Homo sapiens: one gene and its partners. The protein of the gene in region 5 interacts with the protein of the main gene of each other region in a pairwise test. Each region holds a gene or a part of one and is shown on either strand. Other genes may lie near its edges.

Region 1 (3,500 bases), on a different chromosome or scaffold from region 5:
GCTGACTTTGTGTAGAAAGATGTCCTCTTTCATTACATCCGGAAATACTGAGGAGAGCTCAGGGATGCTTTCCCTTCCTGTCCTGTGTGGAAGCCAGGCTGGGAACCAATCACTACCCTGCAAATGATGGCTACATTCCTCAGTCATTGTGCTCTTGGCAAAATATCAGTCTGAACAAAAATGAAATAGGAAAAATGCCAGGAACCTTGGGGTATTCCTATCTTCTGAGAGCAACTGGTTTGAGAGCTCAGAAACATTGACTCTTTCTAGCCAAGGCCTATACAAAACCAGAGGCAGAATCCTATAGGATATCTGAAGGAACCCCACTCTATTGGAAAGATAAGCATAGTATGCACAGCTTTAAAGGAGGAGTTTCTATTTTTAGGACTAAAAAAAAGTCAGTGCATCTTCAGCACTATCTACTGCATTCCTGAGAAATGCCAGGGGAAAAGAGCTAACCTGGCTCACTTTAAAAAATGCCCTGGAAGATGGAGTATTACCAATCTCTTCCCCCTAGGGGAGGGCCAGAGCTGTAGCCCTGCTCTAGTTATTTAATACAATAACACTTCTTTCATACACCTAACTGAGCTGTATGTTATGAAAAAATTTTAAAAAAGCATATGGAAAACAAATGCTATCAACTTGATCTAAAACAGCATTCTTTTCTTTTTAATCTTAGCATCTCAGCCTCGCCCGTATCGCATGAATAGCACCGTAGACACGAGGTAAAGTTAACTGACTCAGGAAAGCTCTTAGGAGAGCCCATCAGCACAAAGGAATTGATTCAGGCTGCAGAAAGCAAAGGAAAGAGGCCTGGTGGGGCAAGCTGGTTCAAGAGAGGGACCATAAATGCATTTTAAAACAAAAAAAATAAAGTATCCTCATTCAAGAGACAGAGCAATGAAACAAACACCCAACCAGAGAAAACTCAAGTAGATTGTGGATAGTCGGCCTCCCACTAAGGGTAACACCTCAAGAGAGAGCTAAATCAGAACAGGTTTTGGAAAAATTTTATTGCATTTTGTTTCCATGTGGAAGCACTGACAGAATTGAAAAGTGGCAGCATGTTCCACTTACTTTTCTGAAAAATCACATGGCTAGATTAACTTTCGCCCTACCCAGGACAGGATTGAATAAACCTTAACTCCTACCCCCACCCCAAGCAAAAGCTAAAAAAGGGGGTTTCTGGCAATTGCTTAAAAAACAAATCAATGTGTGAGAATTCCCCGATGGTCAATAATCATATTTGTTATTTTTGCACTTGGAGGGCACTCCCTACCTCCTTCACCTCTATCCACCATCACCACCTCCTTCAAACAAGACTGACACAGGAAGTGCCTCTCAAATGGAAAATCTATTCTGTCCCAGTGCCACAGGCTTAGGTGTGTCTGTGGATTCTGGCCAATGGGATGGCCATATGTCAACTTTGAAAGGGTGGGGACTGTGAGGTAACCCCAGCATCATGGTCATCTCCATGCCAGGACAACAGTCTCCCAGGTTAAAATATAGATAAGACACAGGTACGTGCACATTTATGGGGGTTAACTATCAGAAAGTGAATCCACTTTGAGGTTTATAAAATGAGAAGGGGATGATGGTGGGGCTGTATGTGTTGGGCACTGGTGCCTATTGCAGTCAGAATTCACACTGCTTAATTGACATCTTGCTGGGGAAGAGAGGGAGATGGGGTGGTGAGAGAGGAAGCAGATGAAACAAAGGAAAACGTAGCTTGCCTGAAATTGTGTAATTTTTTTTCCTCTTGATTGTATAAGGCATTTTGAACTGGAAAAACGTCTTTCCTACACACTCTTCCAAATAATCACAGGGAATATAATTGCTGATTCAGAATACAAATAAGACCTCTTTCATCTTTCTCCCCACTCCCCCGCAAAATCATTCTACACACCCCAAGCCCATAAAGTACAAGGCAGGCAATTGCTTTGCGAGTTAGCAGGCAAACCGTGTCCACTTGGGGGATGAGGTCGCTGTGCCAAGGTCCCTTCTGATCCTGCCCTTCTCAGGCCTCAAGGGGTAAGCATCCATCTTCGGTGAGGTTTTATGTCCCATCGGGGAGCCCGCCACTGCCTCCTGGGCAGTGGGAGGTCAGGGCCCTCCTGGCTTTCCCATGCATCCCCCACCAGGTGTCCAGACTATTCCATCCACGCACAGCGTCATGTCTCACTCAGTTAGTAGAATGGGCACAGCGCGAGACAGCGCCCTCTACATTAGTCATGCCAGACAGACAGCAGAGAGAAACCAGAGGCCAGAGAAGTGATTTTAAAAGGAAAAGAGAGCAGCTTCGGTCACCAAAAGAAATCGAAAGGATGGTTTTTAAAAAATAAAATGTGGGGACTTTTTTTTTTCTCTGCAATGCTCAGCCATTTTACTTGAGACATAAAAAAAGTTTTAAGAGTAGTTGTTTTGCTTTTTCGATTTAAACATTCATGAGAACGGATGGGACGGTAGTGCTGTGGTGTGGACTTGTGTCTGAGTGGCCATGCCGGTCGGGGTCCTTCAGACCACATACTGGTACGGGTCTGCCTTCCCTTGGTCTGGCGTGGCAAAGGGGCTGGCCCAGCCTAGAGAGAAGGGGTGGCCAAAAACGGCTTTCATGTTCATCCATTTTGTTTTTTTAGCCCATCTTCTCTCTTCCTTTTTCAATTGTTCTATTCCCTGAAAACAAGAACAATCATACTTTCAGTCAAGCACTGCATTGCTGTGGTTTCTGGGGAGGGATGTCCGCAGCGACAGGTGAATGGAGTAAATGTTTCCTTTTTAAAGCAACAAAGCTATCTACCTAATATATCTTTCTCATAAAAAGTGTTACTAAAAAAATTTCTCCTTTTTTTGGTGGGCACTCATTCACAAGTCCCTCCAAGAAGGGAGGGAAAAAGAAGCACTATCAGCAGCGCAGAAACTGCTGCTTGTAAGTATGCCAGGCCGGGGTGTGTCGCTAAGATAAGGAGCGCGTCTCTCCAGCCCTGGCCCCTTGTTGAGCTCTGCAGAGGCACTCTTCAGAAACTCTGTGCTGGGCTGTGGATGGAGTACTATGAAGGCTTTGGCGTGAGAGGCCTCAGAGCTGTTGGGGAGCTCGCAATCATCATAACCAATGATGGCCATTAATTTGGGATAGGTTCCTAGGAAGTTTGAAGCTACCATGACCACCTTGCAGACAAAAAAAAAGTAACAAATCAAATGACTGCTCTGGCGTTGTGTGTCTCACCAGCCTGGGGGATCAAGCAGCACCCCGCTTAGTGGGCCTGGTGAGACACAAACTGAGAAGGTTGAATAGGAGTGACAGACCACGAATGAGGGGAGAAGTCACCAGAGGAGGAAGGAGGAGGGATTAGTACAGGTTAGAGGGTGGCATGGCCAGGCCAGCCAGCATGGCATGGCAAAGGTCCTCCTAGTGGCTCCTTTGGGGAGAAGCATGGCGCAGACCTATGCAGCAGCTGTCACGGAGCCAGCGCTGCTTCCCCTGCTAAGTCTCAGGAAAAAAC
Region 2 (3,500 bases), on a different chromosome or scaffold from region 5:
CTAGTGATGTTGAGTTGGGCTTCTCCATAAGGGTGAGGAATGTTTTTAGCTCTGGCTTCTGTTCTAAATGAATAGTCGAAGAGTTTTTGCCTCCTTCTGGCACAAGGTCATGTCACTGCTGTGGGAGGCGAAGTAAGATGATACTCAGATATGAACCTTCTTTTTATGAGCTGGGCTTGCTTTTTTCCATCCAGAGTCAATTGGCTTAAGTGGAATTTGGGCCATGGCCTCGTGGAAAGTTGTTTTTCCTTCTGATGTTTATGGACAATTCAAGTTTCCACCCACTGGGCTATTTTTCCATCCACTTCAAGCCAGTCTAGTGTGCGGCATAGTTTTCATGGTGTCATTACAATATTTCTAGATTGTAAAATATAACAAACCTCTTTTTCTTTCTATTTTGGCATTTAGTAAATAAGAAATTAAAACAGTATCTTAAAAGGGTAGCTATGATGGAACACTATCAGAGGGTATTATAAATATGGGAATATTGTGGACTTAATTATGTAGATCACATTCACCACAAATCTCTATTTCTTCAGGGTGGACAAGGAATACAATGACTCCTTCATGTTTGAGATATTTTTAGGGATAAAATTTAATTCATTTTTCTAGGCTTTATTTATTGAACCATTTTTTCAGAGTGGGTTGAGATAAAGTGATATCTCAAACAGAAAAAAATCATATCCAGTTTTCTAAAAATAGAAGTCTTAGATTTTTTTCAACTTCACACATAGTGTAACAAAAAATCAAGCGCTGTATATTAATCTTGAAAAAAGTGACTCATAGTAACTGATAATTGGGCTCTTAATTCTAAGAATTGCTCTTAGCAAAAGCTAAAACATAATTTTAAAACACAAATAGCATTCTGTCTCTAACCCTTTGCTCCCTTTTCTTCCTGCTTTTACATTTACCTATTTCTCCTTCTTTTCTCTCATTTCTCCATTAATTTGGTTGCCACTATTTCCCACCCAACAGGTCCCAGAACGTCTTGCCCAATTCCCTCTTGCTATGATGGCATACATTTCTCTATGTACGGATGTACCAGGAATGCCTGCCCATATGTTGGCATTCTTGGAAGCTTGGACCTTCCTAGCTGATGTTTTCAACACCAGTGCCCTCTCTACTGATTCAATGGCATTTTTCCCCCATTTTTTTTTTTTTTTTTGATTCAAGACCCTGCCTAAGGGTCAGGCAACATTTTCATCACTGCAATGTTGACCTCATTCTCTTCTCAGTTTCCCAACATCAATGTAGAGGCGCAGCTGGAGTTACTCATGTCCATCACATCGTCTCGGGGTCCTACTCCAACAATACAATTTTTCTTGCTCCTGTGGCCAGCCAATTTAACAATATTTATTGTACGTATGTTGGATGCCTAATACTACATTGTGCTGGACAATGTAGCATGTTTAAGAAATAGAACATGGTGTCTATCTCTATGGTTTCACAATATCTAATACTTTGTGTTTGGTACGTGGTGTGAACTTGTGAAATTCTTTATTAGAAATGTATTTAAAGGAGATCTCAATTAAAATCCATTATACCCTCACCCATCTCTGGAAAAGATGCTTTAAAAGTCACAGATTGCTAATCCCAACATTTTATGATTATCTCATACTGTAACCTCCTTGATATGTTATTGTCTTAATGTTTTCCTAATTTCTTTGGGCACTCCTTTTTTCATGTTTTGTTTTGCTTTTTTTTTTCTTGTCTTCCAAATGTGTACATTTATTTCCAAATATTTCAGTTTCCCGCCTTCCTCTCTCCTCTCCAAATGCTTTAGTATTGTCACAACTCTTCTTTGAGCTTTAACTCCTTCACAAGGAAAATTCTCAGATCTGAAGAGAATTGAAGGAAGATTCTCTCTAATGAGCTCTGGACTCACATTTTTAATATTTTTTCAATGAATACTGAAGGAAATCATTCAGGCACAATTCTATTTGGAGGAGGAGATTGAAGTAAAGGACTTCCTGTTATTTTATTTTTATCCCTACCAGACTTTTACGCATAGTGACTGACATACTATATGGTAGGTAGTGTGATGAGGGAAACAGGACAAATAAATATGTCTTCAAGCAGCTAATGATCTACTCAATATATATGTAAGAACATTAAAACACTAATTACTACAACACAGGTTAGAGGAAGATATGTACAATTGTTGCCCTAAGCAGTTCCAATGACAAAGGGATCACATTTTTATGAGAAAAAGGAAAGTGGAGCTCACAAAAGGCTAAATGGTACGCAACGTCTATTTCAAAAGCATTATGTCTGTTTGTTCCTTTAATGCTGTTTATTCTGGAAGGGAAATTGAACTCCTGATTCCTTCGTGTTTTCATTTCACATTTGCCACATAACGTAGCAGAAACAAATTATTGGAAGTGACAACTTAAGAATTCAGACTGAGTTTATTTAGAATCAATATAATTTTTAAGACATGGCACTCCCTGTAGATGTCCTTTTCAGGAAAATTTATACCAGAAGAGAAGAGTGTCCTTTAATGAAAACATATACATGAAGGGAAAGAAGGCAAATCCTTGTACTTCAGCTGTGGAATTTGGGTGAAATCTTGAGTCGGAAATTGAAGGCACCAAAGGTTTTCCAAGGCAAATGCCCCCTCTAGGTGGAGCTATATTTCTTCCCTTGTCTTCGAAGTCTCCCCATCACCCCTTATAGTGACTTCAGCTCCTCCTTTCTCACCATTTGACACCAGCCCCACCCCATCCAACCTGTGCACCCTATTAAGGCAAGGGCTGTCTCTCATTCTCTCAAGAACCCTAGCATATTTAGCATAGAACCATTGAAGATGGCAAATGAGTGAGAAAATAGGCAGCTCTAAATGCCATTCATTCTCTTTGCCCATGTTGTTCCACCCACCTTGACCATCTGTGTTCTATGCCTAATCCCCTTGCCTTACCAAACAACCTGGTGCCAATTTCCTGTTTAAGCCCAAGCATTCCCATTCTCAACTTTGAACCTCCAGAAACTTCTCCCACTCTCTTTCCTTCACTCCCTTCATTACAAATGTCATATAGGCTTGCTGGTTCTCTACAGTGTCTTCCTAATCATATTTCACCTTGATAATTTTAAACTTTTCATAGTTGCCGATTCAAGACTACCTCCAGAATGGAGAAAACCTTACTTACCTCTTCTTTAACAAACCATATTATTCAAAGTGACAAAGCTAGTAATTTGAAGCATTATTTTCATTATAACTTCTATGTAGCTATAAGGCCTGTTTTTAAAAATGTTTCACATTTATTTTTTCATCATATTTTTGTAACTCTACTCAGGTAGATTGAGTGGGATTTTTAAAAAATTGATACAGAAATGCAGGCTTAGAGAAGTTAAGGGGGCCATATTCAATGACATACAGATATGAAAACAAAAGTCTTAAAATTCCTAGTTTGAGTTTATTCCTCTGTAATATAATGCCATCTCTTTCTTAGGCTAATAAATAGATTTTATCTCCCATTTGTCTCTCATGTCAAACCCCAAAT
Region 3 (3,500 bases), on a different chromosome or scaffold from region 5:
CAGGAGTTCGAGACCAGCCTGGCCAACATGGTGAAACCCCTTCTCTACTAAAAATAGAAGAATTAGCTAGGCATGCTGGTGCATGCCTGTAATCCCAGCTACTTGGGAGGCTGAGGCAGGAGAATTGCCTGAACCCAGGAGGCATAGGTTACAGTGAGCAGAGATTGTGCCACTGCACTCCAGCCTGGGCAACAGAGCAAGATTCCGTCTTGAAAAAACAAAAAAACCCAATGAATGAGAACTACACATAGATAGGTTCAGCATCTGTGGACAGTGAGAGAGATCACTGGAAAGGGTGTGAACAGAAAGGGAGCAGCACTTAAGAACTCTGAGGCAAACTGGCCGGGCGTGGTGGCTCATGCCTGTAATCCCAGCACTTTGGGAGACCGAGGCGGGTGGATCACTTGACATCAGGAGTTTGAGACCAGCCTGGCCAACATGGTAAAAGCCTTGTCTCTACTAAAAATACAAAAATTTGCCAGGTGTGGTGGCATGTGCCTGTAGTCCCAGCTACTCTGGAAGCCGCGTCACAAGAATCGCTTGAACCCAGGAGGCAAGGTTGAGGTGAGCCGAGATAGCACCACTGTACTCCAGCCTGGATAACACAGTGAGACTCTGTCTCAAAAAAAAAAAAAAGGCAGAAAAACAAAAGAACTCTAAGGCAAATCTAAACTGTAGGATGAGATCAGAGGTATGGCTATGCTGCTCATGGTTTGTATGGTGAACTGGTCTCTAAAGATGAGAAAGGCAAGAAATTATGAAGCCTAAGCAGCAGATACCATGAGTAACTGCCACCTTAAAAATAAAGAAATACATAAAGCATTACCAATAAGATAGTTAATGCCTCAGGACCATTCATTAATTAGTTGTTTTGATTTAATTTCTTAGTGTATAATAAAAGCACCAGATAGACTGGGCATGGTGGCTCATGCCTGTAATCCCAGCAGTCTGGGAAGCCAAGATGAGTGGATCACTTGAGCTCAGGAGTTCAAGACCAGCCTGGGCAACATGGTGAAACACTGTCTCTACAGAAAATACAAAATTAGCAGGGCATGGTAGTGTGTGCCTGTAGTCCACTTTTATAAAGGCACTAATCCCATTCACGAGGGCTCTGACTTATAAAAGAGGCCCAAGCGAGCTTGTTTGCCCCTTTTAACAGGTACGGACACGTAGAAGGATCTGTCTATGAGGAATGGGCCCTCAACCAAACACTGACTCTGCGGGCACCTGAATTTTGGACTTCCCAGTCTCCAGAACTGTGAGAAATATCTGTCTATTGTTTATAAATTACCCAGCCTAAGGTATTTTGTTTTAGCACCCCAGACAGACTAAGACACCACCTCCTCCCCAACTGATACCATGTGTTAGAATTAACAACTTATTTCAGTTCTATTTATCTTTCAAAATCCCATTCAAAAACTGCCTCCTCCATTCTCTAACTCTGGTCTCATCAATACTCTGCATCATATCATTTAAGTATAAATTTGTTTTTGGTAGTATCCCAACAAATCTATGCACCTTGTGGAGAAAGAACACATACTATTCTTTTTTTTTTTTTTTTTTTTTGAGGATGGAGTCTTGTTCTATTGCCCAGGCTGGACTGCAGTGACGTGATCTCGGCTCACTGCAACCTCTGCCTCCTGGGTTCAAGTGATTCTCCTGCCTCAGCCTCTGGAGTAGCTGGGATTACAGGCAAGCGCCGTGACGCCAGGCTAATTTTCATATTTTTAGTAGAGATGGGGTTTCGCCATGTTGGCCAGGCTGGTCTCGAACTCCTGACCTCAGGTGATCCATCTGTCTTGTTGGCCTCCCAAAGTGCTGGGATTACAGGCGTGAGCCACCATGCCTGGCCAGAACATATACTATTTTATAACCACAGAGCCCAGTTAAAAATAGTTGCTAAAAATTCTGAATTGAACATACAAATTTCACAAGCACAAGTTTGTGGCACACCAACTTCACAAAGATACCTACCTGCCAATTGTGCAGCATAAGCCCACAAAAAAGAACAACGTTTCATGCAGGCCTGGCATACCATCTCCTGAAAATCCCCACTCTCAGGGGGAATGGCACCAAGATGCTGTGAATATAGAACACCAAAAATTTTCTTGTGATTGCCAAATTGTCCAAAATGCCCATTATTTTATAAATACTGTAATAATACACTGATCATATCATTAGAATTTATTTTTAGAAGACTAATTATAATGTAAAATATAACCTTTATCTTTTTGTGACAACAATGGTTTCAAAAGGTGGAACATTTTCCTTACCCTTCCATGGAACCAGTCTTCACAGACTACGCACTGGATCATCTCATCTGGAATCTAACAGAGAAAAGCAGTTTGTTAAGGATTACATTGAATTCGGGAACATGGAAATAACCTGGCACACAGTAAAATAAGATACTAAATATTTGTTCTACATGAACTGGTGTTCCAAAGGCTTACATTGAGATAAGCACTTTACAAACAATCTCAAGGCTCTTTCACATCCATTACTTAATATCTGATTCTCACAAAACTGTGTAGACAAGGAGGGCATTCCCATTTTATACAAAACTCAGGCCCAGGCAAGTAATGTGAATGGACCAGTGCAGACAGTGACAACTGGGACTTTTTACCACACCATCCTTTAATACAATATTCAGTTGTATTACTGTATAAGGATGTTCACTCCAGCCTTCTTTATAATATTGAAAAATTAGACAATGCCTTTCTGCTGCAGAAGAACCATCCTGCCAAGTACACTGAAAAGTAAATGTTATGAAAAACCTCGATAGATAACTCCTCTAATTTGAATAAATTAAATAATTAAATGCTGGCCCTAGGAAAATAATATACCAAAGGACATAGACTATTTTGGGGATGATTTTCTTTTACTCCCAGGCTCTCATAACTGTTAATTAACATCCCAATGTTGTTCTGTCCTTTTCCTATCGTAGGCTTCTTAAAGGGAATAAAAAAGCACATATTGTGGAACAGGAGGAGCTGTAACACTTTACCACATGCCTTAAAATATCCAGTTTTGGCTGGGCGTGGTGGCTCACGCCTATAATCCCAGCACTTTGGAAGGCCAAGGTGGGTGGATCGCCTGAGGTCAGAAGTTTAAGACTAGCCTGGCCAACATGCTGAAATCCTGTCTCTACTAAAAATACACAAATTAGCCGGGCATGGTGGCGAGTGCCTGTAATCCCAGCTACTCAGGAGGCTGAGGCAGAAGAATCGCTTGGACCTGGGAGGCAGAGGTTGCAGTGAGCTGAGATCGCACTACTGTACTCCAGCCTGGGTGACAGAGCGAAACTCCGTCTTAAAAAAAAGAAAAAAAAAATCCAGTTTTAAGGTTTTATTTTTGTTAACTCAAAGAGACTTTCAATCTGTCCCTCTATATAATTTGGTTCAATAATTATAGTTCCAACGCAATTAGAAAGCAAGGAAGAAGGCAGAAGACTAATATCTCTAAAGACAAAAAGTACTCTTTCAAATCGGTAAATACCCAGA
Region 4 (3,500 bases), on a different chromosome or scaffold from region 5:
AAGTTATACTAGAGGAAAACATTGTTTTTCTAGGCCCTCAAGACAGAATATTTGAGTGTCAGGCCGTAACAGCAGAGTTAGAACCAGAGAAAAAAGCTATAGTAGCCGGGTGCAGTGACTCACACCTGTATCCCAGTACTTTGGGAGGCCAAGATGGGTGGATCACTTGAGCCCAGGAGTTCAAGACTAGCCTGGGCAATGTAGCAAAACCCACGTCTAAGAAAAATACAAAAAATAGCCGTGCATGGCGGCATGCACCTGTAGTGCCAGCTATTCAGGAGGCTGAGGTGGGAGGATGGCTTGAGCCTGGGAAGTGGAGGCTGCAATGAGCCATGACTGTGCCACTGCACTCCAGCCTGGGCAGCAGAGCAGGACCCTGTCTCAAAAAAAAAAAAAAAAATTACAGGAACTAACAAAAAACATTTAAGAGAATTACCACCCCAGCCAAGTGAAAAGATGCATCCTTTCAAGGGGAGAAAGAGGAAGGGTGGAAGGCAGCAATGTATGTCCTGGGAATCACCAGGAAAGTGAACTTCACAGTGCTCAATAAATAATTGTGTTGGCTGGGCATAGTGGCTCACGCCTGTAATCCCAGTATTTGGGAGGCTGGGGCGAGAGGATCTCTTGAGCTCAGGAGTTGGAGACCAGCCTGGGCAATATAGCAAGACCTCATCTCTACTAAGGAAAAAATAAATAAAAAGGGCCGGGCGCGGTGGCTCACATCTGAATCCCAGCACTTTGGGAGGACAAGGCAGGCGGATCACCTGAGGTTGGGAGTTCGAGACCAGCCTGGCCAATATGGAGAAACCCCGTCTCTACTGAAAATACAGAATTAGCTGGGCATGGTGGCGCATGCGTGTAATCCCAGCTACTCAGGAGGCCGAGGCAGGAGAATCGCTTGAACCCGGGAGGTGGAGGTTGCAGTGAGCCGAGATTGCGCCATTCCACTCCAGCCTGAGCAACAAGAGTGAAACTCCATCTTAAAAAAAAAAAATTAAATTAAAATAAATAAATAATTGTTGCATGTTGCCTGAATATGAACAGGTATTCTATGTAGTACCTATGGTTCCAAAGTGAGTGAGTAGCAAGCCCCCTTACCCCGAGACTGCCCTGCCTTCCTCCCTGCCCTTTGTCCCTTCTTACTTTCTGATGACAAAAGTCAAGGAAGGAGGAAAACTCCAGAAGTTTCATATCTTCTCTGCCTGGGCTTCCTTGACCAGATGCTTTCCTGGGAGACCAGGATAGGGGATGTGGAAGGAATACTGTTGACGAGCCCCTCCTCCCCAGGCACAGTGCCTCACCCAGACCTCCCTCCCTGCAGCAGGGAGGTGACCTCCTTATCCCTGTTCTACAGCTGAGAAGGCTGAGGCTCAGAAAGGCTGGGCAAGCTGCTCGAGGTCCCAGAGACGGGCGGGGGCAGGGCTCCAGCCTAGAGCTCTAGCCACTGACCCTGTGCTCTAAGTGTTCCTGTGTTACACACACTTATCTTTCTCCCCACCTCCTAGCATCCCACGGCTCTGTATTGTGTGCCTGCTGGCCCTGGGATAAGAGCTGCAGCTTCAGGGCTCCCCAAAGCTGGGTTCTTGGTATACAGAGGCTGCACTATGTCGGGGGAAGCTGCTGTTCACCTGTGCACTCTATTTTATGTAACACCGATCTCTGAGTCTCACTCTCTTTCTTTGGGTTATTCTTCCAGCTCAAGAGGTTTGGATATGGACCTTCTTCAATTCCTGGCCTTCCTCTTTGTCCTGCTTTTGTCTGGGATGGGAGCCACAGGCACCTTGAGGACCTCCCTGGACCCAAGCCTGGAGATCTGTATCCTTTGGGGTTGTAGTTAATGAGCTGTCTTTGAGAGGTCTATAAATGAGGTTCTTCTACTCAGGGATTCCAGGGATAAGCAGGCCCAGCTGGCGGGAACAGGGAGAAAAGGTGAGGTGCTCTAGCCAGACCTTGAGCAAGTCAGGTCTCTCCGGAGCTTCAGCTTCCGCGTATGGTAAATGGAGATGACAAGGCCCATCTCTAGACTGCAAAGGCTCAGTGAGGACTGTGCATGGCCTGGCACCTTGTGGGCAAGATCCTGGGTGGAGACTCAGGAATTCTGGATTACTGGCCCATCTGGACCCTGGTGAACTGGGCCACCTGCTCCAGGCCAGGCCTCAAGGACACGAAGATGAATTACAACAAGTCCCCTGGCTTTGAGGTGTCCATAAGCCCAGGGGGAGAAAGTATCCAAACAAATGATCATGTTACTCTGTGACCAGTGCTCTGATGGGCACAGGAGGGGTCAGGGAGAAACACTGTGTGATGGTTTTTGAGCCAGGCCTTGAAAGGAAAGAAACTCCTAGAGGAGGGTGAGGGGCATCCTGGGCAGAGAGGGTGCAGCGCGAGCAGAGAGGTGGAGGCTCTGGAACAGTAGAATGCTTGTGGAGACGGCAGGAAGACCACAGCAAAGGGAAGGCAGGAGCCAGGTCTGGAGGCTTGGTTTCAGGCTTCTGGGTGTGGAGCGCCATGGGAACTGGATGAATAGTGCGTTGCAGGTCCATGCACTTGTCAGTTTGTTCATTTCCTGGAGGCTTCTAGCCCTGGGTGTCCATGGCCCTTGCAGATACTTGCTGGTCAGGAATGAGCCTTCTGAGGCAAGACTGCTGGATTGTCCAGGCAGGGCTATTGATGCCAGCCCCTTAACTTAATTCTGCCCAGACAAGAAGATGTTTGAGGTGAAGCGGCGGGAGCAGCTGTTGGCACTGAAGAACCTGGCACAGCTGAACGACATCCACCAGCAGTACAAGATCCTTGATGTCATGCTCAAGGGGCTCTTTAAGGTGTGTGCAGGCAGGGGGCAGCTCATGGCAGGTCCAGTCTTTGATCTAGGCACTGATGGGTAAACAGGAGTTCCCTAACGGGTTGGTGTTCAGGGACAGGGGAACTGCGCACACGTAAGACTTGAAGTGGGGTTTAAATAAATGGGGATGGGAGCAGTCTGTGATGGGCACTGCGAAGCCACTCAGCCCTGGCGGGATTCCCTCAGGTGCTGGAGGACTCCCGGACAGTGCTCACCGCTGCTGATGTGCTCCCAGATGGGCCCTTCCCCCAGGACGAGAAGCTGAAGGATGGTATGGTCTGCCCTGCCCCGCCCTGTCCTCCGCACCACCCGATCTTCTCTAGCTGCTCCTTCTCTCCTGTTCTTGTCACTCTTTTTTTCTCCCCGGAAGTGCCCTCTTGTGGCACCTTCTAAGTGGTCCCCTTGGGCAGATGGGCGTTTCGTGAGTGGCCTCCCTAATTAACTGGCTACTTTTTAGCAATAGCATTTCTTTTTTTTTTTTTTTTTTTTTTTTTGAGACAGAGTCTCACTCTGTCGCCAGGCTGGAGTACAGTGGTGTGATCTCGGCTCACTGCAACCTCCACTTCCCGCGTACAAGTGATTCTCCTGCCTCAGCCTCCCAAGTAGCTGGGACTACAGGCACATGCCGCCACACCCAGCTAGTTTTTGTATTCTTAAT
Region 5 (3,500 bases):
AGGTCACTCCTAGGGATATCAGGACATGGCCAGAACCAGCCCTCACCCGGCCACTATCCCAGACGGCAGAGCCCCCTCTGTGGCCTCGATAGTCTCACCTCTGTCTTCAAAATCCTGGAGCAGTATGAACCCCATTCAGTCCTGGGACAGAGGGGCTGCCCTGGTGACCCCACTAAGCTCCTTCCATCCTAGGACATACCTGACCCCAGGCTAGCCGCATTGATCCCAAAGGGGTTCGAGACTGTCGGGTGCACCTGGCTGGTCCCCGATCCTCCGGTGCCCTCCCCACCGGACCCGGGGGCCTGGGAGGTGGGGGGCGAGGGGCTCCAGGGGTTAGGGAGGGGCTCTCGATTCTCAGTCCGCAGAGGCTGGGAGGATGAGCTGTCGGAGTTCCCGGCCAGGGAAGAGAAGGGATTGTTGCCAAACTGGGAGGAGGGAAAGGTTTTGGGTTAAGGACTGAAACAAATCAGGGACAAGGGCTAGGCCCATTCTCTCCTCTCACTTAATAGCCTCCCCTTCCCCAGAAAAGGGAGAGAGATCTAAGACCTTAGAGGTCCTCAGTTCAGTTCTTTGCCCCACAATGGATAGCTCCTTCCTTGCTCCATAGGGTGGGAGCTAGCTGATGCTAGTGACTGGATAACTGAACCTCTCAGATAATTGGAAACTTCCCATCCCCCCGGTGGCTTTCAATATTTGGTCTCTAATCATCTCCTATGTAACCCACCGCACTTTACACACAGTTTTCCCATTGTGTAGCCAAATATTTGTGTTCCTGTACCTCAAGGGGCAGAGGCAATGTCAGATTTGCCTGTGCACCCCCAGCCCCGACACTAGTAGGTGCTCAATAACTAACTACTGGCTTAATGGGAGTGGGCTGTCAAACCTGGCTCTCTACTTGAACCCCGATCTTCCCTTTCCCCAGCCTCCTTGGACTAATCCTAACTCCCCAGAACCTTTCCCTCACTCCCCAGGTCCCCTACCTGGCATTCTCTGTCCATCCAGGCACACCACAGTGGCGGCCCCTAGCAGAACACACCTCCAGCAGAATATGCCCTCTCTAGGTTTTCCCCTCCTGCTCCAAACCCTACCTCTACACACTGGCTACTTCAGATGGACAGGCCTCAGTTTACTTCTGGTCCCCCTTGCCCTACCATGCTCCTCACTGTGCTCCCCAGGATATCTCAGGTCCATACCCCATGGGATGGTGTGCTTCCCAAAGGCAACACCGGAACCTCCTCCCCTCCAGCACCTAGCACAGAGCTCTGGCTGAGGGAGTCCCAGACTCAGTTTTCCCTACTCAGCCTTTCTTGTGGTCTAAGAGCTCAGCAGCTCTCTTTCCTGAGTTCCCAGGTGGTCCTACCTCAGCCCCTCCCCACCGTAGGGTTTCATATTGAGCTGCTTTTCCTGTTCATTGAAAGTGGGTCATGGGGACCGGGGCTAACCAAGGATTCTCCTACTCTGAGCTGTTTCCTTCACCTCACCAGATCCTGTTCAGATAACAGAGCTCACAGGCCAGGGTTCATGCACCATGGTTTCAGCCTCTGTGCCTGTTTCAGATTTCTTGTTCTGATACTTGCCTAGCACCTCACCCCACCTTGTTCTGGGCTCGCTTTATTCTTCCTGGTACACTCTAAGGACGAAATCTCTTTTCCTGAACTACCCACAGTGATAACAACCATCATTTATTGAGCACCTACTATGTGCCTGACACATTTATTCTAATGCTTATAATACTCCTCTAATACAACAGTTCTCAAAGTGTGGTCCTGGGACCCCTGCAAGCATTAAAACTGTTTTCATAATTCTAAGACATGAATTTGTCTTTTTCACTCTTATTCTCTCATGAGGATACAGTGGAGTTTTCCAAAGTCTACATGACATGTGACATTGCAAACTGAATGCAGATCTGAGAACCAGCTGTCTTGTAGTAAGCTAGACATCAAAGAGAACTACAAAAATGTAAAACAAGTCCATACTTTCCTCTACAGTTTTGTTTGTTTTGGAAAATAAAGTTATTTTTCAAAATAATGTTATTTATGTTAACTTGTAATAATTTTTTTTTTTTGAGATGGAGTCTCGTTTTGCTGCCCAGGTTGGAGTGCAAAGGCACAATCTCGGCTCACTGCAACCTCCACCTCCAGGGTTCAAGCAATTCTCTTGCCTCAGCCTCCTGAGAAGCTGGGATGACAGGCACCCACCACCACACCTGGCTAAGTTTTGTATTTTTAGTAGAGATGGGGTTTCGCCATGTTGGCCAGGCTGGTCTCAAACTCCTGACCTCAGGTGATCCACCTGCCTCAGCCTCCCAAAATGCTGAGATTATAGGCATGCGCCACTACGCTCCACCAACTTGTAATAAATTGTCATTTTTAAATGAAACAAATATTTTAAAAGTTTGTCAGTTTTAGGCCGGGCACGGTGGCTCACGCCTATAATCCCAGCACTTTGGGAGGCCGAGGTGGGTGGATCACCTGAGGTCAGGAGTTCGAGACCAGCCTGGCCAACATGGTGAAACCCCGTCTCTACTAATAATACAAAAAAAAAAAAAAAATAGCTGGGCATGGTGGCGGGCGCCTGTGGTCCCAGCTACTCGGGAGGCTGAGGCAGGAGAATCACTTGAACCCGGGAGGCGGAGGTTGCAGTGAGCTGAGATCACGCCATTGCACTCCAGCCTGGGCAACGAGTGAAACTTCGTCTCAAAAAAACAAAACAAACCAAAAACACAAAACATTTTTAAAGGTTGTATTAAAAAAAAAAAAAGCAGCCAAGTGCAGTGGCTCACACCTGTAATCCCAGCACTTTGGGAGGCCGAGGCAGGCAGATGACAAGGTCAGGAGTTCGAGACCAGCCTGGCCAATATGGTGAAACCCTGTGTCTGCTAAAAAATACAAAACTTAGCCAGGCGTGGTGGTGCAAGCCTGCAGTCCCGGCTACTCAGAAAGCTGAGGCAGGAGACTCGCTTGAACCCAGGAGGTGGAGGTTGCAGTGAGCTGAGATCGCGCCATTGCACTCCAGCCTGGGCGAAACAGTGAGACTCTGTCTCAAAACAAAAGCAAGTTAAAATAATAAGACCAGCATGGTACCACCTCATATTTAAAAATATGATAATATATAGACGTTTATAGACATATACATAGGTAATAAAAGAATCAGAATGATAAACCCCAACTTCAACTTCAGCATACTAGTTACCTCTGGAAAGAAAAAGAATAGGAGAGGGGAGGGGTTTGTAAAGGCTACAACTCTACCTATGTCTTATTTGCAAATATTAAATATGTCTAGGAAAATAAACAAGATACTAACAACATTAGTTACCACTGAGGTAGAAAAGAGCTGGCTGGGAGATGGAAACAGAGGGATCCCTTCTGTAAACCTTTTTTTAGCCTGTATACTTTTCCATACTTTTTTGGAATACCCTTTTGTTTACTTTGTGTAACTTGTGAATTTTTTTTTTTTTTTTTTTGAGATGGAGTCTCACTCTGTCGCCCAGGCTAGAGTGC
Region 6 (3,500 bases), on a different chromosome or scaffold from region 5:
CTCCAGTAAACAGTCTGCTTCTGCCATGTGAAACAAAACCAACTCCTTCTGAGGAGCCCAAGGGGGTCAGCCAAGGGTCCCCTGTGAGGGCAGCCCCCTCAGGAGCCAGAGCCACAGGCGCCTGACCTGTAAATCACTGCAGTCCCAAGTTCATTATCCCATCCCTTTCCGTCTATTTATGCCATGACCAGTGCCTAGGGAAGGACCCAGAAATGATGTGATGTGATGATACCATAGTGCCAGCCAAAATCCTTCTTCTACCTCCCTGAACTCTCCTTTGGCCAGGTTTCTTCATCTGCTGTGCTATGGTTGTGTGAAATTGACCTTCCTTGCATTTATTCTGTCTCCCTCGCAGAAATTTTATTTATGTCCTTGCTCTTGTTCTCATCAAGCTGTCAGGAAATGACAGTGTGCATTCTCTTTTTTATTTTCTCTCCTTTAAGGCTGGCCCTGGCCCTAAATAACCCACTGTCAGCATGAGGGTGTCTACTGGCGACATTACTCTCCAAGCACAAATCCCTGGGATGGATAGTACTTTAAGCTGCTACTAGAGCAGGTGTCAAGGAATTCTCCGATGGACAAGGACACCGGCCTGTGGGGTGGGTGGGGTCGAGGAAAGGAAAGAGCCATTTCATTCAAGCCAGTCCTGCCTGTGCCCATTCTATTGGGTTTCTGGGTCCCACATTCCTCATAGAGCATGAGACTGAGCCAACATGCTCATGGCTAGTTTCCACGGGGAACCTCCATCATGGCACCTGAGCTACTGAAAATCAAAATCGCTTGATGCCAGGCTGCTGTGGCTACTGACTCAGCCCCCTGCCTCCCACCTGCCATCGAGATGGAGAGCGTTTATGTCCCCAGAACATCTGGAGGCTGAAGTCACGAGGTTGGTTAGTTTGCTCCAGAGCAGCTCTGTCTAATAGAAATGTTTATGTAATTTAAATTTTTTTTGTAGTCACATTTAAAAAAATAAAAGAAGCCACTAATTTTAATACTCTATCATATTTAACTAATATATTCAAAATATTATCATTTTACCATGTAATCAATGCAAAGCTTATTAATGAGCTATTTTGGATTCTTTTTTTGTATTAAGTCACAGAAATCCCATGCATCTGTTATATTTAATGCACATCCTAATTTGGACCAACCACTTTTCAAGCACTCTATGGCTGCATGTGGCTAGTGGCTAGTGTGTGGGACAGTGCAAACATGTGACATTTCCATCATCATAGAAAGTTTTATTAGACAGTGCTGTGCTGGAAGACCAAAAAGTTGTGGGAAGAGGAGTGACAGGTGTGAGCAGAGTGTGCTCCAAAGTTCTCTAGAATTACTGAGTTGTTGGAGCTAATTACAGCAGAAATTGGAATTACAAGGATTGGGATGTTCAAGGAGCCCAGCCCTATGTCTCAGTAGAGATTAAAATGGGCTTTTATGAAAGGCCCTGGGACCATGCATAGTCTGAATGTGTCTGTCCCCTCCAAACTCCTGTGTTGAAATCCTAATCCCCAACGTGATGGTATTAAGAGGTGGGGCATTTGGTTGGTGATTAGGTCGTGAGAGTGGAGCCTTCATGAATGGGATGAGTGCCCTTGTAAAAGAAGCCCCAGAGAGGTCACTTGCCCCTTCTACCATGTGAGGGCACAGCAAGAAGATGCCATCTCTGAACCAGGAAAAAAGCCCTCACCAGACACTGAATCTGCCGGTATCTTGATCTTTGACTTCCCATCCTCCAGAACGGTGAGAAATATGTTTCTATCATTTATAAGTCACCCAGCCTATGGGATTTTGTTATAGCAGCCCAGACGGATGAAGGCAGACCATGCCCATGTTTTGCGGTGCTGCCCCACAGCAGTGGGAAGGCCAGCAAGTATGATCATGGCTCAAGACATCTGCTGGCTAAGCTGCCTCCATCTTAGCTGTTCTGGTCTGTTCAGGGCAGGGGCTGGGAGAGAACACCAAAGTCACATACTTCTTCCAATAACAATTCTGGGTTTGAATCTAATTTGGTGAAGCAGATACAGAAACGTGATCAAATTATGTGTGCCTGTGTCTGTGTGTGCATGTGTGTTCGTGTGTGTGTTCTTGGCAGGAGAGAGGAGGGTCATGTGTGAACTCCAGAAGTACTAACCTGGCCGCCAAAATCAGCTTCTCACCAGCTGCCATCAGAGGACAGTGAAGTGGCAGACTCAAGAGGCTCATCAACATTGTGAGCCATGAAGGAAAGGCTTTGAGTCTGGAAAGAATGAGATGATGGGCACCCGGGCAGACGATCAGGTGGGAGGGAGAAGTGGTAATCAGAGGCATTCTCCAAAGACAAGAGCTGCCAACTCTACAGCAAGGATGTCACCCTGATCCCCAAATCAAGCTTAATTCAGAATCCCACGCAGGCTTTTGTGTGTGGGAAGAGTGCAATTAGCCATCTTTCCCCCTCATTCTCTGAGGTCTCCCTCATATTCTGTTCAGGGAGGCAGCATTGAGGAGCTCCTCATACATAGATTCAAAGCCCAGCTCCCTCGGTGGCTCCAGAATTTCTAGGAGTTTGAAGACTACCACCTGGTTGGAAGGGGGCTACGGGGCTTGCTTTAACGATACATTTGCATAGCAAGTTCCCTCCTCATTTTCCTATAGAGTGTTTGTTTATTTGAGACAGTTTCTAGTTAAAAATACCTCACCCAGCCTTTGGTCCCTCGTGGACTTTGAGTTAGTTGCTTAACCTTTCTGAGCCTTAGTTTCCTCACCTACAAGATGGGAATAATCTTGCCCATCTCCCATGGATTTTGTAAAGATTAAACTGGGGCTTGTCAGCATGGAGCTACCAAGGGCTAAAACTGGAATATGACACCAGGAACTTCAGGCCCCCAACCAAACGTACAAATCTCTGGATCTCTCCTTGCTGGGTCTCCCTTAACAATGATCTACAGCCCCCTCCCCACTGCCATTCACTCCATCAGTGCCATCATTTAGTCACTCAACTCTCATTTATTAAGCAACAGTTGGGTGGTGGGGACTCCAAGATGAAAGGGTACAGTCTGTCCATCTGACACAGGGTATTTCGGATCTATCTACTTGGCACATAAGTATGCACTGTGGGTGACTGGGTTGCCCACTGGTGGGCTTCCACCTTCCCCCCAATCCCCACCAACTGTGTACCAGATTTTGCCAAGGTGGAGGGGCTGAAAGATCCAGCAGGAAGAGATCCAGAGATTTGTATGTTTGGTTAGGGGCCTGGAGTTCCTGGTGTCATACTCCAGTTTTAGTCCTTCGTGGTTCCATGCTGACGTGTCCCACTTTAATCTTTACAACGTCTATGTGAGATGGGAAAGATTATTCCCATCTTGTAGGTAAGGAAACTGAGGTTCAGACAGGTTAAGAGAAATAAATAAGAGACCTGGAGCAGGGGAATAGGGACATGTTGCCCCTTTAAATCATAACCACCAAAGTCTGAAATCAGATACACAACTGGAAATTTATCTGAGCCTCAGATTCCTTATCTGTAA
Region 7 (3,500 bases), on a different chromosome or scaffold from region 5:
CTGGGTTGGCACCTCACGCCTGTCAGATTGTGCTTCCCAGGGACTTGCCACACTTTTGACTCTACTGAGAGCCGTTGAGAACTTTCCCTCCTGGGCTCACCACTGCTGCCCTGACCCTTGAGCTACACCTCGCTAATATTTATCTCTTGCATTTTTGAGCTCTTCCTTTCTCTCTTCTGGAAACTTCCTCCATGTTACACACACACACGATACACAAAGTCTCCTGTTTTAAAAGAACAAAAGACTCTTTTCTTGACTTCATGTCCTCCTAACTTCATCACTACCTCTCTCCCTCCCTTTTCAGCCAGACATTTTAATGTAGTTGTGGACATCTACTGGTTCTACCCCATTGCTTCCCGTCCTTCCTCAGTCCTCTGGGCGCCATTCTCTGGAAATGTTCCTCTGTGCTGTGTGTGACACTGAGGGCCACTCCCTCTGTGGGACCTTTCATTCCCTCGGCTAACCTGGTGCTAGTTTTTGGATCTCCTTTTTCTCTTCATCTCCCGGATACCTGTGCCCTGAAAGTCATCTTTGGTTCCTCCTACTCTTTCATTCCACATGTCCTAATGATTTTACCTTCCACTATTTCTCAATTTCTCCCTTTCCTGCCTCCTTATTCTTACTGCCCCACTTCATGCCTTCATCATCTCTTGAGCAAACACTATCCATAGTGCTTGAGAGCTTTTCCTGCTCCCTCCCCCAGCCACTGTTACCACTGCCAAGAGTTTCCCTGTCTTCAGTGGCTGCCCTCCATCTCCAGAACAGTGTCCAACTCCAGAGCACAGCTCCCACGGCCATTTGCGGCTGGCCTAGCCCACCTAACTTACAGCCTCATTGCCCTCCTCTCACCAGTGTCACAGTGAGCTGCTGCTACTTCCCAAAGGGTCTGCACTCCCTGATGTACTTTCTCTACCTCTTCTGCCCAGTCAACAGCTGCTCCTCCTTCAACTCCTTCCCCAACTCCCCTGAAGGATTATCAATGTTGATTATTAATACCATGAAGGGGATAGTAAGTGTCTCCCTTGTTGGGCTTCTAAGATACCTGTGCCCTCCCCAGTACAGCATCCCCCTCACTGTACTATTGTTCTTTGTCTCTCCCCGCTGGACCGTGTACCTGCTGAGAGCAGACACTTTCATTCAGTTTCTGTCCACAGAGCCAGACACATAGTAAGAACAGAACACATCTCTGATTAAATTGGAAATGGATAAGACACCAGGTAGTGGGGGAAAATTAATTGATTTTGCTCCATGAGCTGGGATAGACCTCAGTTACAGTACTCAGCACTGCATAAGTAATCAATACAGGTTTTCATGAAACTGAACTGCTTTGAGAACAGCCCAAAGTATATCTCATGTTAAGCTGACTATTGGCACCTTCTGCATGAAGGCATGCTTGTTCTGTGATTCTCCTGTGTGAGTAAAGTTGCTCAGCAGTTTCCAGCCATGCCATGGTTGTACCCTACTGATTCCTCTTGGGGAGTTTGCCCCTGATATGCTTTGGCTGTGTCCCTACCCATGTCTCATCTTGAATTCCCACATGTTGTGGGAGGGACCTGGTGGGAGGTAATTGAATCATGAGAGCAAGTCTTTCCCATGCTGTTCTCACAATAGTGAATAAGTCTCATGAGATCTGATGGAAAAAGAGAAACTCCCCTGCACAAGCTCTCTCTCTTTGCCTGCTGCCAGCCACATAAGACATGACTTGCTCTTCCTTGCCTTCCACCATGATTGGGAGGCTTCCCCAGCCATGTAGAACTGTAAGCCCAATGAAACCTTTCTTTTGTAAGTTGTACAGCCTTGGGTATGTCTTTTGTTGTTGTTGTTTTTTGTGAGACAGAGTTTCACTCTTGTTGCCCAGGCTGGAGTGCAATGGCATGATCTCGGCTTACTGCAACCTCTCCTGCCTCAGCCTCCTGAGTAGCTGGGATTACAGGCATGAGCCACCACACCTGGCTAATTTTTTTTTTTTCTGAGACAGAGTCTTGCTGTCGCCCAGGCTGGAGTGCAGTAGCGCAATCTCGGCTCACTGCAAGCTCCGCCCCCTGGGGTTCATGCCATTCTCTTGCCTCAGCCTCCCGAGTAGCTGGGACTACAGGCGACCGCCACCTCGCCCGGCTAATTTTTTGTATTTTTAGTAGAGACAGGGTTTCACCGTGTTAGCCAGGATGGTCTCGATCTCCTGACCTCGTGATCCGCCCGCCTTGGCCTCCCAAAGTGCTGGGATTACAGGCGTGAGCCACCGCGCCCGGCCTAATTTTGTATTTTTTAGTAGAGATGGTGTTTCTCCATGTTGGTCAGGCTGGTCTCAAACTCCTGACCTCAGGTGATCCACCCACCTCAGCCTCCCAAAGTGCTGGGATGACAGGTGTGAGCCACTGTGCCCGGCCTTGGGTATGTCTTTATCAGCAGCGTGAAAACAGACTAATACAGCCCCTTTCTTGGTCTGGCCCGAGGTGGCCACTTTTAAGCTGCCTGTAATATGCTGGCCATATAAGAGAGCTGAGAGAACCATGTCCTCACTGTAACACCCAAGTACTCTCCACTATCAGAGAGGAAGTCATAACAACACCAGTTATTCCTGGCTCCATAGGCACAGCCACCTTAATTTTCCAAGTAGCAGTCAGAAGCTGTGGTCTGACAATGGATTTTTGTGCTGCAAATGGGTTAAAGAGGCTGTCTGGGAGGTTTAGTGAGTGCACGAATTGGCATTTCTGGGGTACGTTGATGATTGGTAAAGCAGAAATATATGAACTATTTGATGTTAAGATTGCCTAGGAAAACATGGAGGATTTGCTTGCTGAACACACAGATCTTTGTCCAAGGTCACTCTGTCTATGCTGGCAAAGCTGCCCCTCCTCCAGGCCCCCAGTGATGCTAAGAATTCACACCATCTCCTATCCAGAACCAGTAACTGCCTGGGAGGTTCCTGATGGGAATATTCTGCCTATGCAGGTGCTTTGCTTCCCCGGTTAGATTAGAAAACAGTCTGCACTGTGGCCCCTGTTCCTTGCCTCCTCTCTTCCAACTTGTTGACTGAGACAGCAAATGATGCTTAATAAGCAGCATGGTTCTGAACAAAGGCTCTGGAAGGCCTAGAGTGAAATGCTTAATAGGCCCACAGCCCCTACCCTCCAAGTTATAGAATGAAGTGGAGCCCACTCCATCAAGGCTTCTATCCTACCACCGACCACTCATTGAGATGTCACTTGGCATCAGGTGTCTTTTGACTTGCTCAGCCTGCAATGTTTAGAGTGCCATTATCAGCCCAAGACCAAACTGGGTAACCTTGGACTCCTTCCTGAATGTTTCTTAAGCTGTCCAACTTTGCATTTCAGCTGTGAATACCTTATTGCCTCTTCACTGAGCAAAAATGAACAGTTTTTAAATCCCATAATTATGTCTTTAGCTGAATAATCAGGAAAGCTAATAATCCTCTTTAATTCCTCCCATGTAACTTTCAGTAGCTCAAGGGTATAAAGACTTTAATGTTTGCCTGTCTT

Evidence for each region.
Region 1: the proteins of UBQLN4 (region 5) and ZDHHC3 interact in a two-hybrid assay, tested with the Homo sapiens proteins (one large-scale study listed by BioGRID and IntAct).
Region 2: the proteins of UBQLN4 (region 5) and PTN interact in a two-hybrid assay, tested with the Homo sapiens proteins (2 studies listed by BioGRID and IntAct).
Region 3: the proteins of UBQLN4 (region 5) and UBR7 interact in a two-hybrid assay, tested with the Homo sapiens proteins (one large-scale study listed by BioGRID and IntAct).
Region 4: the proteins of UBQLN4 (region 5) and CCDC134 interact in a two-hybrid assay, tested with the Homo sapiens proteins (one large-scale study listed by BioGRID and IntAct).
Region 6: the proteins of UBQLN4 (region 5) and RAI2 interact in binary tests that used the Homo sapiens proteins (3 or more experiments, as listed by UniProt).
Region 7: the proteins of UBQLN4 (region 5) and MTNR1B interact in a two-hybrid assay, tested with the Homo sapiens proteins (one large-scale study listed by BioGRID and IntAct).

What each region holds. Positions count from the first base shown.
Region 1 is NC_000003.12:44,924,175-44,927,674, forward strand, and holds part of ZDHHC3 (palmitoyltransferase ZDHHC3), read right to left. Parts: intron 2,674-3,500; coding exon 2,515-2,673; 3' UTR 1-2,514. UniProt on the Homo sapiens protein: Golgi-localized palmitoyltransferase that catalyzes the addition of palmitate onto various protein substrates.
Region 2 is NC_000007.14:137,337,234-137,340,733, reverse strand, and holds part of PTN (pleiotrophin isoform 1 precursor), read left to right. Parts: intron 1-3,500.
Region 3 is NC_000014.9:93,213,756-93,217,255, reverse strand, and holds part of UBR7 (putative E3 ubiquitin-protein ligase UBR7), read right to left. Parts: intron 2,328-3,500; coding exon 2,274-2,327; intron 2,081-2,273; coding exon 1,975-2,080; intron 1-1,974. UniProt on the Homo sapiens protein: E3 ubiquitin-protein ligase which is a component of the N-end rule pathway. Recognizes and binds to proteins bearing specific N-terminal residues that are destabilizing according to the N-end rule, leading to their ubiquitination and subsequent degradation.
Region 4 is NC_000022.11:41,807,179-41,810,678, forward strand, and holds part of CCDC134 (coiled-coil domain-containing protein 134 isoform 1 precursor), read left to right. Parts: intron 1-1,696; 5' UTR 1,697-1,712; coding exon 1,713-1,815; intron 1,816-2,700; coding exon 2,701-2,822; intron 2,823-3,028; coding exon 3,029-3,113; intron 3,114-3,500. UniProt on the Homo sapiens protein: Molecular adapter required to prevent protein hyperglycosylation of HSP90B1: during translation, associates with nascent HSP90B1 and the STT3A catalytic component of the OST-A complex and tethers them to a specialized translocon that forms a microenvironment for HSP90B1 folding.
Region 5 is NC_000001.11:156,043,799-156,047,298, forward strand, and holds part of UBQLN4 (ubiquilin-4), read right to left. Parts: intron 426-3,500; coding exon 200-425; intron 1-199. UniProt on the Homo sapiens protein: Regulator of protein degradation that mediates the proteasomal targeting of misfolded, mislocalized or accumulated proteins.
Region 6 is NC_000023.11:17,854,799-17,858,298, forward strand, and holds part of RAI2 (retinoic acid-induced protein 2), read right to left. Parts: intron 1-3,500.
Region 7 is NC_000011.10:92,972,651-92,976,150, forward strand, and holds part of MTNR1B (melatonin receptor type 1B), read left to right. Parts: intron 1-3,500.